Homo sapiens: one gene and its partners. The protein of the gene in region 4 purifies or fractionates together with the protein of the main gene of each other region. This does not show direct contact. Each region holds a gene or a part of one and is shown on either strand. Other genes may lie near its edges.

Region 1 (3,500 bases), on a different chromosome or scaffold from region 4:
CTGGCTCATCTTGAAAGTCACTGTGAACTTGGCCTTCTACTCCTAAATATAACTCCTCCTGTCCTACAAAGTATGAAACAGCTGCTCCAGGACAGGGAGCCAAGGTTAACCATGGCTTCCAGGGTCCCCAGCCCACACTGAGGCCATGCCCCCAGGATGACCAGGGTCAGGAGAAAGGTGGGTCTCGGGATCACACAGTAGGGACCTGATCAATTAGAATCCCCCTTTCCTTCACTTAGCAAGTGACATGGACAGGACGCAGGATGCACAGGTCCTAATAGGGAGGCCTGGGGAAGAGAAACCGCCAGCGTCCTTTAATGTCGGCATGAAGGCTCCTGGCACAGCCCCTACTGGCCCTGGGTCCCCCATCGAGACAGAGAAGCAGTCCTGGCTTCAGCAGTAGATACAGCAGCTGATCAGCATCCCAGGGCCCCACTGCAAAGGCTACAGAGGTGCGGCCCCAGCCCACCCCTGGCTGTAGCCCTGACCCTGACTGACTCGAGTCTTCCACGTTCGGGACACGCACCTGGCCCTATCCTTGAATCCTGCCAAGGGCTGCCTTCCTGGGCACTCCTGGCAGACACCACACCAGCCAGGTCCCTCCTGGGCGCCCCAGCTCCATCTATTTAGTGTTTTGGGGTCCTGAATCTGGGCATCTTCCCCGATCTTCCCTCCCTCCCCCACACATCCACCCACGTCCAGGGCTCGGTGGTTCACACCGGTCTTGAACTGCTCCACCTGCCAGCATCACCTCTCCTTGCACCACAGCAATAGCCCAGCCAGCCACCCGCTCCGACAGCTGCTCCCTTCATCTCTGAATAGCAGCCCCTACAATCCTCGGGGCACTGGCGACCCCCCAGTGTTTCCTGTCACTTTAGGAAAATGGCTCCTCATCACCCACGTCCTGTCACCTTCCTAGCCTCACCTGCTGCCTCCCTCCTACTCACGCTCACTGCTCCAGCCGCACTGAGCCCAGGAGGGGAGGAGAGGGGAAGGTGAGACGGTGAGGGGCAGAGGTGCGTGGCCTCAGACTTACCTGGTCAAAGAGCTGGTGCTGAGCAAGGTACCCGACGTCCCTTGGCTAATCCACCGGGGAAAACCAGAGGCAACACAGAAAGCCCAGTTAGTCATGACAGATGCCCTCCTGCTGCTGCTGTCCAGCTGGCCCCAGCTGCAGCACCCGTCACCCTTCCACTCCATCCTGAGTGGTCCTCTCCAACCCTTAGAGGCCCTGGGGCAGCTTCAAAGAACCTCTCCAGCACCGGGGTACCCAGTTTGTAAAGCACTGATCTCATCCATCTGATTGGCAAACATTTTCATAAAATGGCAACAAACAGTGCAGGCAAAGATGTAAGAAAATGGACACTTGTGTTAATTGCTGGTGAAAGTATAAGTGATCTAACTTTTGGGAAAAATAAATTGTCCTATCCTGTCCTGTCGTAATTTTGACAGGGCCTGGTTCTATTGTCCAAGCTGGAATGCAGTGGCCTGATCTTGGCTCACTGCAACCTCTGCCTCCTGGGCTCAAGCAATTTGCCCCACCTCAGCCTCTTGAGTAGCTGGGATTACAGGCACGTACCACTATACCCAGCTAATTTTTATATTTTTTATAGAGACAGGGTTTCACTATGTTTCCCAGGCTGGTCTTGAACTCCTGGTTTCAAGTGATCCGCCTGCCTCAGCCTCCCAAAGTGCTGGGATTACAGGTGTGAGCCACCATGCCTGGCTGCTATTAAAAATTTAAATACACATACTCTAGACTTAGCTGTCCAACTTTTGGAACAGGCTAAAACCCACTGAATTATACTCCCCTGCCCATTAAAAAGGACCTGACATGAATCCCTCATGTCTGCTGGCTAAGCAGCCTGCCTTCCTCGCTGCGGTCGTCCCTCCGACCACAGACTTACAGCCTGGCTCCTCCAAAACCTCCCATTACAACACATGGGGGGTTATTTGCCTAAATGTACTATGCTCTCTGCCTTGCAAGTACTAGGGGAAAGCAGTCCCCATGATGTACCTCATTCACGATGTATTTGCTGATGAACTCGTTGACCGTCATGAGGGTCTGGGACCATTCCTCATCTGTGTACCTCGAACCAACTTCCACTGGGACAGTTCGGCAGCCAGCGATCTCCTGGATATACTCCAAACTAGCAGAAAGACACACATTGGCATCGTCACTGCTAATATCTGTTGGGCATAGTACTAAGTGTGCTTTGCATGTGGTCCCCTTTCATCCTCGGAAAACCTCACGTGCAGAGACAAGGACTGTCATCCCCAGCTTCACTGATGAGGAACCGGCATGGAGAGGTGGGGCTCCCTGCTCAAGGCTGTGTGGCTCATACACAGTGCTGTGCAGCTTTGCAGACAGGGCCGGTAAGTCTGGTTGGCTGGGCTGCTCTAGTTCCCTGCTTGCCAACAGCCTCCTCACTTCTTTCTTTGCTCATTTTGTCACTAAGCTGAGAAACCTTTGAACAAATAGCGGACAGCGTGGCAGGTGGCAGTCTCCTGGACTCTGCCCTCTAGCCTGGGACTGATTCCAGGCCTCATCAGTTACAGGCCAGGGGATCTGAGGCAGGTTACTGAACCCGAGTCCTTGATCCCCATTTACAGAATGGGGGTGATGACAACACCTGTCCTAGTGCCAGGTACGTAGTAAAATGCTTAATGAAGCCTTGCTGTGAGGAGAGCTCCTGCAATGAGAATTCCTCCACATGTGTCAGCGGGTACCATTCCCTCCGCGAAACCACAAAACAGGCGGACTCCATCTACCTTCCTGGAGAGATGCCTCCTTATTTCCAAACTCATGCAGAGCCGCGGCATGACAGCCACGCTCCAGCTGCCTGATCTGATCTCCCCATCATGATTCTGAGAAAGGACTAGAAACAAACACAAGAGACCACAGAATCCCTCAGAGAGAGAGGGGCTGTCTCTTGGGTTATTTCTGCTCTTAGCTTCAGGGCCCTGAGATGGTCTGAAATTGCTAGGATCCTGTAAAATTGCATAACAGAAACATTCTAGGACTGCCACTTAGGGACTCATTAAAAAACCGCTTAAGGCGAGCAAGGTAGAAGGTAAGAATCCCATAACCTGCGGCATAAATTCAGAGCACCTTACTTTTCACTCTTTTTTAACCCCTTGGCAATCAGTCAAGGGCTGCTAGTGAAGCATCTACAAGGTTGCATTTCCCTGGGGATGGTCGGGAGGAATTCAGGGAGCCCTGGGGAACGCTAAAATGGGAAAAGGGACCTCACCTCCCTCAGCGACCACCCACCTCCACTTCTGCATGCACGGCCAGTGGTCAGCCACGCCTTTCAGGATCACGGGCCTCCCTGGAACCAAAAACTGCTCCCTGAAATGCTGGAGGGACGGACGGTGCAGCCGGGGGACTGTTTTTTCTAACTTCACATCTGGAATCAAACCATGGTCCGCCCTTGCTTTCTGTTTAAAATCAAAACAGAACAAAATAGCAACCACCTCAGGAAGTCGACATTTGAGGT
Region 2 (3,500 bases), on a different chromosome or scaffold from region 4:
ATGAATCTTGTAGTTGTTCCTGAACTTGGAGTGTTAAATTTTGAATTTGCCATTTTTTAAGGTTCCAGTTTTTTGCTGGGCGTGGTGGCTTACGCCTGTAATCCCAAGACTTTGGGAGACTGAGGCATGCAGATTATCTGAGGTCAGGAATTCGAGACCAGCCTGGCTAACATGGTAAAATCCCATCCCTACAAAAAATACAAAAAATTAGCCGGACATGGTGGTGGGCACCTGTAATCCCAGCTACTCGGGAGGCTGAGGCATGAGAATCGCTGGAACTCAGGAGGTGGGGGTTGCAGTGAGATGAGATAGCACCATTGCACTCCAGCCTGGGAGACAGAGCAAGACTGCGTCTCAAAAAAAAAAAAAAAATCTACTTTTTGTGATACGTATTTTCATATATAAAAGTTTTAATTTCATAAATACTTGGTTTTTATAGTAGCCTTCTTTTGGGTTGAGTGATTTGGGCTCTTAATTTTTATTGCCACAAATAGCCCACAGCTGGTAGTTGCAGACTGTAGGAATTGTACACTGGTATGATCTTACACAGGTAATTGGGCTACTGGAAGTAGAGGACTTGCGAAATACAAAGGAAGAAATGAGAGATGTACCTGCCAGGAGACTCAGTAACCAAAACAAAAACTTCCACTTCATCTAACAAATTATTCCTTTTTGGGATAAAGTTAAAGCTGAAACGTAGGTTTGTTGGTTGTTCTTTATTTTCCTCAAACATAACTTAATTCAGACTTCTCTTAACTTTGGAAAAACCCAACATAGATAAGTTGGATAGATTCTTTTTTCTATTTTGCATCATTAGATTTTTTTTGCTTGAAACAGCTGTCTTTAGCATTAATTCTTAGCATCTTAGATTCTTGCCAGATTATTTTTTACTATTATTTGTCATTTTATTCTTTAATGAAGCAGCCCTTCCTGAAATCATTCACATTTAGATTATATGTTGCTGGAAATACTGAATGTTCTGTGTATTGTGCTTAAGCATGCAATTATAGACAGTAATTAAGTACAGTGCATTTGTTTCAATAGCTTACAGCAATAAGACAGCTTTTGAAAGTTTATACATAAGATGTATACAAAGATAGACTGCCTTCATTTTCTTCAGTACGTGAGTAGGGAAAATAAATTCACAGGAGGAATTGTCAAAGAAGTTCAGAATGAAAGGGAATAAAGGGAAGATGGGGAATGAGAAACAATGAAGAAAATAATAGAAAATTTGGGAAAAGATATAGAAGAAAGAAAGCAGAGAAGGATTAAAACGGCCTTTCCAAAACGACTCTTTGTCAGTGCACTTCCATTAATCACCTCTTCAAATGAGATAGTAATAACTCTTTTTGCATTTTTCATTTTTGCCTCACCCTTACTGGAGAAGAGAAGATGAGAAAGACAGTCCCAGGAGTGTCTGGTATCTGCAGCCACAGGGGGAAAGGAAAGAGAATACAAATTGTCATTGTGTCAGTAGTTCTTATGGCTACCACATTGGGGGCAGCTGTCATTGATTAATTTGAGAACTCCTTCTGCGATCTGTTGTCCATTGTTCAGGATACATATCTTTGGCTGTTATTTTAACATTTATTTATGACACTTGTTTCTACTTACTTTGACATTTGGATACTCACTATTAGCAACATCTTATCTTTTTAATTACTGTTTTGTGGCTTATAAAAAGAGACTATAGGCCGGTGACGATGGCTCACGCCTGTAATCCCAGCACTTTGGGAGGCCTAGGCTGGCGGATCACTTGAGGTCAGGAGTTCAAGACCACCCTAGCCAACGTGGCGAAACCCTGTCTCTACTAAAAATACAAAAATTAGCTGGGCATGGTGGCAGGCACCTGTAATACCAGCTACTTGGGAGGCTGAGGCAGGAGAGTCACTTGAACTCAGGAGGCAGAGGTTGCAGTGAGCCGAGATCGCACCACTGCACTCTAGCCTAGGCAACAGAGTGAGACTCCATCTCAAAAAAAAAAAAAAAAAAGACCGTATAAGAATGAAAGTGAACTGGTACAAAGTAGTTACCATTGTGGAAAAAACAACTCAAATGCCTCATAGTTGAAGCCAAGAAGCAGACAGGCTTTGCCTCTATCAACTTATATTTGAAAAACGTAGTTTCTTTAAATCTCCATTTTTGTCTTTTGAATACTTTATTAGGTCGCTCCAGAGAAAGCTTGAAAGCAAGGCCTGTACTCCACTTGAAAAGATTCATAAAATAGATTTGTAAATTATTATTCAGCGCATGAATTTCTCAAGTATATGATTATACTAAATTAATATTCATATGTTGCAGGAAGTTGGTGAACCATCTAAAGAAGAGAAGGCTGTGGCCAAGTATCTTCGATTCAACTGTCCAACAAAGTCCACCAATATGATGGGTCACCGGGTTGATTATTTTATTGGTAGGATTATATCAGTAAAATCGTATTAGTGTACATATGTTATGAAGTTAACCTACATTTGGGATATGTAGAAGTTTTAAAAGTGCTTTCCAAATGTGATTGTTCTGGTGATGGACATATGGCAGTTGATTATTCTGTTCTTTTCTTTTATGATTGAAAATGTCTATAATAAAAAGATAACATGTTTTCTAATAACAATTGTTGGAAATTTTTTTAAATAGGATTTATTTTCAGTGTTTTAAAATACTACCTTTTGTTTAGATAGTATGCGTACTTGGAACTAAGAGCACTGGCTTTTTTTCCCCAAACAATGTCATTATAAGCTGATGTCATTTATAACACCAGAGCTTATAAGTAGGGGTTGAGTTTGCCTTTCTCATCAATTAAAAGTGAATTGCAGCTGGGTGTCGTGGCTCACACCTATAGTACCAACACTTTGGGAAGCCAAGGCAGGAGGGTTGCTTGAGGCCAGGAGTTCGAGACCAGCCTATGCAACACAATGAGACCCCATCTCTACAAAAAAATTAGATGAGTATGATGGCATGCGCCTCTGAAGTGAGAGGATGGCTTGAGCCCAGGAGTTAGAGGCTGCAGTTAACTATGATCCCACCACTGTACTCCAGCCTGGGTGACAGAGCAAGAACCTGTCTCTTAGAAGAAAAAAAAAACTAAATTGCCAGTGTAGAGGAAAAGTCCTTTATCGTCTCTTTCTTTACTGTTTTTAATGATTTGACATTCATTACAAGTTTTAAAAAGTAGATGTGCTAATCTCTTCAGATATAATATGTTTAGCTGTTTCTTGTGACAGCAGTGGATTGTTGACAGAGCTTCTTCCTCAGTGTATTAGAGTAAAACTTGATGAGAATTTTTATTACTTGCAGGGAGTGGTGAACATTTTGGTTTATCTACATATGCTTGTGATTAATAAGAGTGATAGTTACATACAGATATTTTAAATTTTTGAATATTTCCCCATTAATTTAACTTGCTTTAGTTGGTCTTTCTGAATGCCATTATTTCCCAACATTACTTTTAAAAGATACTTAATATAGTTCACAAGTTGAGGTTTTGGGGAACTACTAATCATGAT
Region 3 (3,500 bases), on a different chromosome or scaffold from region 4:
TATAAACAAACAAATCATAGAATTAAATTTAAAAAAGAAAAAAATGGCAGCTATGACTGTGGTTTGGTCAAGAATCACCAAAGGGGATTTCCCTAGATGAGGTCTGTTCAAAGCAAGAAGACAGAGAAGAAATAAAACAACCCAAGATTTGGGGAAAATGGTCTACTTTTGACAGGTCTACAGAGTAGATGCAGTGCTATTTAACAATGAGGGAAAAAGAAGAAGGAATTCTTTTTTTCCCTAACAATGCAAATGCTCTTATAAATAAAAAGACTCGAATAGAATGAGGAAGGGAGTCGACTCCTGGGGGAGTGAGGCAGCAGAAGGAGAGCTCTGAGTCGACAGAAGGGGGTTAAGCCTCCGTGGTGAGATGAATCCCATCGCAGGAACTTGCAGATCCTGCAGGAGAGATCGTGGAGTCGTGCCCGGGAAACCTGCGGAGGAGAAAAGCATCAGAGGACTTATTTGTAATTTTACTTCTTGCTTAAAAAGACTTTAAAGACTTTTAATGCTTTGGGTAATTTTCTCTTGCATCTCTAGGTAGATGTGTGGGTTATCGAACCACAGGGACTGAGATTTCTTCATGTTCCCGACACATTTGAAGGCCATTTCGATGGTGTTCCGGTCATTTCTAAAGGACAACAGAAGGTACCCTGAGCCCTGTGTGTTGCCAGGCATTCACAGGGCCTCTGGATTGTGGGTTCTGTTCTCCTTCTGTGCTCTGGAGAAGAGAAAAGCAGGCTGGTGTTGAGGACACTGTTGAAGAAATGGGGATCCCCAAGTAGAGCCTAGGGCCTCCCCAGGATACACAGAACAACACTCCCAGTGCTTTCCTTCCATTTTGACCAGAGATTGTCCCTTTTTGAGTCTCATTTCCCCGTCAGTCACCTGCTTAACCAGTAGCTAAAGGACAGCTTTCACATCCTATATGGCAGATTTTCATTCATTAACCATAGCAAGACATGTTCAGCTCTCTGCCTCAATGACCAGCGATAACCAACTATGACTCCTGTAAGGAGAAACTCCTCTAAGAGCATTAAAACATTTCACAAACTCTTTCCAAAGCACATAGTCAGCCCTTCTACAGGGGATGAAGGAAATTCTTCGGCTTTCTTCTAAAAAGGTCTGAAACCTTGCAAACAGCATGGCAGGCTAGAGATGCTCCCTGCAAAAGCCCTGGCATGTCCTTCCCATCAGTAATGGGTCCACCGATATCGCGGGGATTCAGAACGTCCATTGGGCAGCTCCTCTTCCCTGTGTGCTGGAGAAGGGGCAGCGCCAAGCACTGGGAAGGGGCTAGAGGCAGAGGCTCTGATGTCACCGTTCTTTCTAGGCGCACGTCTCCTTCAAGCCCACGGTAGCACAGCAGAGAATATGCCCTAACTGCCGGGAGACTGCGGTAGATGGGGAACTGGTGGTGCTGTATGACGTGAAAAGAGAAGAGAAGGCTGGTGAACTGGAGGTGAGTGCACACCGGCTCTGGTTCTACTGCCAAGCTCGTGCCAAAGAGCTGCTCCTTTTTGAACAAACTCCCAGGCCTATGGGTGGTTTCTAGCTGCCAGGGCAAGTGTTTCTAGCTGCAGAGAAGGGACTAAAATCATATTCTTTGAATATACCGCTAAGCATTATCTTTTATGTATTAAAAACTAAATGAATAGGGTCTCATGCTCTTGTCCCAGGAGGGCATTCCTGGGCCTCATGTGAAGAACAAAGGAATAATTACAGAACAGGAATTTTAAATAGGCTCCCAAGGCCCTTTGCAATTAGACAATCAAAGAAAGCACAGAGATTACGGGGTGAGGAGGAAGGCGCATCCACAGCCTAGAAAGATCAAGAGCCAGCGGTGAATTTCAAGGCCAAGGTTTATCATGAAGTTTCTTGAAAAGTTTCCTTTCCCCTTCAGTCATGTCCCAGACGTGTGTCTTCCTTTCTTTGTACTAAGGTGAGGACTCTTAGAACGTACGCAAACTCCAAGAGTCTCTCTAGGGACAGCAAGCGGAGCACACACCCTGTACCTGGATGCTGTAGTTTCCTGGAAAGAGGCAGCCAAAGGGCAGAGGAAAGAGAATTAGGTGAGCCAGTCATCAAGCCTGCAGCAGAAGACAAAGAGGATGGTCAGGAGTCCAGCTGGGGCAGCCTCTCATTAACTTCAAGAAAAATCCAAATTTTCTAAAGTGGCCCATACACGTCCTTCGTGATCTGTCTTGCTGATTCTCCAACTAGTTCCCTGAATTCTTGGATTCTACGGCCCCATCTTGCTGAACCACATATGGAGCCCCAAATATGCCATGTTTTCTCATCTCTGGGGCTGCGCTGTCTGGAACTCTCTTCCCCATTCCCCACTATCTCAACCTGGCCCAGCTCTCAAGAGAGCTTCTGAGTCTGAGCTCATCCTTAGGTCCCAGTGGAGATGCTGCTTCCTAGAGAACCGTCCCCTGGGTGCGCGTTAGATGCACACGGGGCTCTTGCCGAGCCCTTTACTTCCTAATCATGGTGTTGAACACACCGCGCTGCACATTGCCTCCACTTACCCTTATCCTCTGCTGGCTGGGAGCCTCCTGACGGGAGGTGCTCTGCCTGATTCACCGCTGGTTAGCAGGGCGCCTGGAACAGGGGCTCTCTGTAAAGACTGAGTGATGTGGAGTGGAGTGGAGTGGAGTGAAGTGGCGTGGAGTGGAGTGGCGTGAAGTCGGGTGGAGTGGAGTGGCGTGCAGTGGAGTGGGGTGAAGTGAAGTGGCATGGAGTGGAGTGGAGCAGCGTGGCGTGGAGTGGAGTAGAGTGGAGTGGCGTGGTGTGGTGTGGAGCGGAGTGCCCTGGCATGGCGTGGAGTGGCGTGGCGTGGAGTGGTGTGACGTGGAGTGGAGTGGCATGGTGTGGAGAGGAGTCAAGTGGAGTGGAGCGGTGTGGAGTGAAGCAGCGTGGAGTGGAGTGGAGCGGAATGTTCTGCTAGGAAGGTCTTGACCCTCAGAGGAGAGGAGGTGGGGGAGCAGGCAGGAAAATGTGGAGGCAAATGCACATCAAGCTCCGCCTCCTCCTCCCTGTAGACCCCTCTCTTCTCTGAGTCCCCAGGTCCCCATCTTCCTACCTTCTAAACACGAATCATGATTTGACTCACAAATACCTTCTATTTTTCAGGTGTTTAATGGATATTTTGTCCACTTCTTTGCTCCTGACAACCTGGACCCAATTCCCAAAAACATCCTCTTTGTCATCGATGTGAGTGGCTCCATGTGGGGAGTTAAAATGAAACAAGTAAGTACCCCCTTGTTTGCAGTGGTTGGGGGGATTCCCTATCTTCTTTGATCCCCTCCTAAAAATGCAATCATTCTATCCCTCCTCCCTGCTTAGGGCTGAAGCTCAGGGACTGTGGTTACAGACTGCCGGTGTCAACTCTTCCTAAAATTTTGCTATTATTGCATTTCACAGGACATACACCTCCGTCTTCTAATCATTCCTCTAGTGTAAAATTCCCTTCCTTCTCTTCTTCCTCTTTCCTGTTT
Region 4 (3,500 bases):
GCTGAGGCTCCAAACAAAATCTGGTCCTGTTCGCAAGGGGTGGGGAGCAAGGAGCTTTGGGAGACTGGTTGGCAACAACAGCAGGTGCTGCAGACCCTGGATTCTGCCATCATTCCACCCATGTCCCTTCAGGAACTCGGGACACAGATGAGGGAGGCAGGAGTGGGCGGCCCAGCGCTTGAGCCCCAGGGGAATGACTGAGAGACATTAGCCAGGGCCAACGGCCAGACCCCACCCAGAGGCCATGTCACTGCCTAAAGGGTTAGGACCCCTGAGCCCCAGCCCAGCTCAAGTGCCCCCTGCCCTTTTTCAATTCAGCCTCCTGAGGGAGTCTAGCCCCTGGAGCCTCTCTGGCCACCACCTGGTCCACCTGGTCCCCTGGGCTGTCTAACTCACCTCCCAGGGGCCTGGGGTGCCTTCAGTGCCAATTGCCACTCAGATCCTGGGCTTGCCAACCACCCGAAGGCCCTGCCAGGGACTGCCTATCACAAGACACTTGCCAGGGACCCACAGTGCCACCTTGGGAGCCAAGGCACACCCAGAAGTCTCTGCCCAACCTTTGCCCAGCAGTTCAGGATTCATCGGGCACCCAGCTGGGGACACCAGGGTGTATCTGGATAGAGCAGACAATGGAGGGAGCGAAATCTGCAGAGAGACCAGAAAAGGACAGGATGGTCACCCCCCACTTCTGCTCTCAGCCCACTCTCCTAGGTGCACACATGCCACAGAGGCGGTTTGGAGCAGGGTTTCTCTACCTCAACACCACTAACACTTAGGGCCAGAGAATTCTTTGTTGTGGAGCTGTCCTGTGCCTTGCGAGATATTTAACAGCATTCCTGGGCTCTACCCACAAGATTCCAGTAGCATCTTCCTGAATCATAAGAATCAAAAATGTCTCCGACATTGCCAGACGTCCCCTAAGAGACAAATCACCCCCACTTGAGAACCGCTAGTTTGGAGAAACTTCAAAAGCCAGAGAAGCCATAAAGAGACCTCAGCTGAGGCCAATCATCTGATCACATGCATCTGAATCTCTAGGTGGCTCCAGACCCATTTGGCAGTAATCTATGACTTCTAGAATCTTCAAGCTTTGAGGAAATTTAACAGCAATTCTTAAACCTCTTGTCAGTATAGCTACGGCTTACACACTGCTGACGGGGAGCTCATCCTACTAGAAGGCAGCTTCGTTCGTCTTGGAATTTTGAATTTTTGTTCCTATATCGAGCCAAATTCTATCTCCTTGTAATATCCAACTTGTTCAACGCAGCCTTGGCCGCAAGGGCCCTCAGCATCATGGGAGCCCTCTGCCCCAGGACAGGCAGCACTGCAGAACGTCAGGGCCAGGGGCCCTGGTTCCTCCAAGCATCACAAGCGTCCAGACAGAGCCTACAAAGGCCTTGGAGAGGCCCCTGCCACGTCCCCAACCAAATTTGACACCATTCCCTCCTCTTCTCCACATTCCAGTCACACAGTCTCCCGTTCCTACCTTGAGCAGGTCAAGGCCTGTCTCCTGCTATCAGGCCTTTGCATATGCTGTCCCCTCTGCGGGAGTGATCTGCCACCTGCTCTTCTCCTAGCGAACTCCTGCTAGCCCTTCAGGTCCTTCACGTTACCTCCTCACAGAAGCCTTCCCCGGCCAGCCCCTACTCCCCAGTCAACATCAGGGCTCTGACTTACTCTCCCATAACAACCTATACTGGCATACTCACCCTCATCCCCTACACACACAGTGTCCCAGACTCCCCGTCCCCCAGGACTCCCTCTGGACAAGTCTCTGTCACTCAAGTGGGCCCAGAGTTCACCTCATGCCCTCCTCTACTCGTTACCTCCCTGAGTCCCTGCTAAGTCTCCAAAGGCAGAATCAGGGCTCCTTCCCCAGTTCCCAGACCCATTGCATGTCACTACAAGGAGCAGAAATGCAAATAGAAGGGTTGGGGCTAGTCCAGCTGCCCAGAGATGGAACAGACTGCCACAGGAGGGAGGAACTCCCCATGGCTGTAGGCATGCAAGGTGAAGCCAGCCCATCAGTTGGCAGAGATGCTGGGAAGGGGTCAAGCATCAGTTCTGGGGTTGGACTGATGGGCCCAGAGTCCATGTGTCCCCTCCCCCAACTCCTCTCCACCCCCATCCCGCCACCCCTGGCCAGAATCACAAGCCATAGCTGGGCCGGGGGCAGCGGCTCATGCCTGTAATCCTAGCACTTTGGGAGGTCAAGGCAGGCGGATCACTTGAGGTCAGGAGTTCGAAACCAGCCTGGCCAACATGGTGAAACCCCGCCTCCACTAAAAACACAAAAATTAGCCAGGCATGGTGGCAGGCGCCTGTAATCCCAGCTATTCGGGAGGCTGAGGCAGAAGAATTGTTTGAACCCGGGGGGCGGAGGTTGCAGTGAGTCGAGATCGCACCACTGCACTCCAGCCTGGGCAACAGAGCGAGGCTCCATCTCAAAAAAAAAAAAAAAAAAAAAAAAAGCCACAGCTGGCAGGTGCTGGTGTGTGGAAAGGAAGCTGCATATCACAGGCTATGCTCCAAGACTGCTCTAGACCAGTCAGGAGCGGATTTGGGTGGCCCATCTCCCCGTGGCCAGTTCTGGGCAGAACTGGAAGGTGTTATTCCAACCCTTTACCTGCCTAAAAGAAGCATTTAAGAGTATCAAAGAAACAAGGAGTCCAAAAGAGATAAAATAAAAATCCCCCACCAGAGCCTGAAGTTCCACCATGAGAGCGTTGCCTGTGCTCAGGGAAGGCATTTCAGCCTTCCAGGGACTCCCAAAGAACCCCAGAGGATTGGGGCTGGGAGAGCTCTTCAGATCCATCATGGCCAGCCTCCAGGTGTTACTAATGGGAGACCGAATCCCAGAGAGGGCAAGACACTTGCCCAAGGTCACACAGCAAGCCAGTGGCAGGGTCAGAAACTGAAATCCACTCCCTCCACTCCTAGCTCTGTGCTGTCAGCCACCAAAGCCTGTCCCACTCCACTCCCTCCCAGCTCCCCCATGTTTGGATGCCTGGACTCAGCCCCCACTCCTCCCATCCAAGGTTCCAGCCCCCAGACCCACCTGGAGGGGTCCTCCTCCGGGGAGAAGGGGCCCTGTAGCTTAATGACGTTGAGTTTCCCCTCAAAGACACCGTAGCTGAGGGTGACCTGGGCAGGGAGATAGAAGAGTGTTGGGGCATCACACTGGGGATCCCCACAAGGGGGCAGCATCCTGGCACAGGTGGAGGAGGGGTTTTAAGCTGCAGGGAAAGCTGCCCGGGAACCTGAAATTCCCCGCTGGTGGTGGGAGCCCACCCCACGCCCCAAGGCACTTCACAGCTGGAAGAGCACTGCCATGCCCTTAATCCCATTTGCTCCCTCAAGAGTTGAGCTCCCCTGAGAAGCTGGAACAATACCCCCATCTACAGATTTGGAAACTGAGGCTCAACAGGAAAAGGCAGCTTTCCAGTAAGCTGCAAGCCTGGACTAGAATGGAGGTTTTCTGAGACTCACTGGAGGGCCTT

What was found.
Region 1: the proteins of MFNG (region 4) and KDM8 purify together in Homo sapiens (affinity purification with mass spectrometry; one large-scale study listed by BioGRID and IntAct). This does not show direct contact.
Region 2: the proteins of MFNG (region 4) and SEC62 purify together in Homo sapiens (affinity purification with mass spectrometry; one large-scale study listed by BioGRID and IntAct). This does not show direct contact.
Region 3: the proteins of MFNG (region 4) and ITIH2 purify together in Homo sapiens (affinity purification with mass spectrometry; one large-scale study listed by BioGRID and IntAct). This does not show direct contact.

The regions. Positions count from the first base shown.
Region 1 is NC_000016.10:27,213,526-27,217,025, reverse strand, and holds part of KDM8 (bifunctional peptidase and arginyl-hydroxylase JMJD5), read right to left. Parts: intron 3,442-3,500; coding exon 3,275-3,441; intron 2,424-3,274; exon of another isoform or gene 2,254-2,423; intron 2,151-2,253; coding exon 2,018-2,150; intron 1,082-2,017; coding exon 1,037-1,081; intron 1-1,036. UniProt on the Homo sapiens protein: Bifunctional enzyme that acts both as an endopeptidase and 2-oxoglutarate-dependent monooxygenase.
Region 2 is NC_000003.12:169,973,307-169,976,806, forward strand, and holds part of SEC62 (translocation protein SEC62), read left to right. Parts: intron 1-2,301; coding exon 2,302-2,410; intron 2,411-3,500. UniProt on the Homo sapiens protein: Mediates post-translational transport of precursor polypeptides across endoplasmic reticulum (ER). Proposed to act as a targeting receptor for small presecretory proteins containing short and apolar signal peptides.
Region 3 is NC_000010.11:7,720,316-7,723,815, forward strand, and holds part of ITIH2 (inter-alpha-trypsin inhibitor heavy chain H2 precursor), read left to right. Parts: intron 1-540; coding exon 541-648; intron 649-1,333; coding exon 1,334-1,462; intron 1,463-3,135; coding exon 3,136-3,252; intron 3,253-3,500. UniProt on the Homo sapiens protein: May act as a carrier of hyaluronan in serum or as a binding protein between hyaluronan and other matrix protein, including those on cell surfaces in tissues to regulate the localization, synthesis and degradation of hyaluronan which are essential to cells undergoing biological processes.
Region 4 is NC_000022.11:37,469,385-37,472,884, forward strand, and holds part of MFNG (beta-1,3-N-acetylglucosaminyltransferase manic fringe), read right to left. Parts: intron 3,145-3,500; coding exon 3,059-3,144; intron 646-3,058; coding exon 579-645; 3' UTR 1-578. UniProt on the Homo sapiens protein: Glycosyltransferase that initiates the elongation of O-linked fucose residues attached to EGF-like repeats in the extracellular domain of Notch molecules.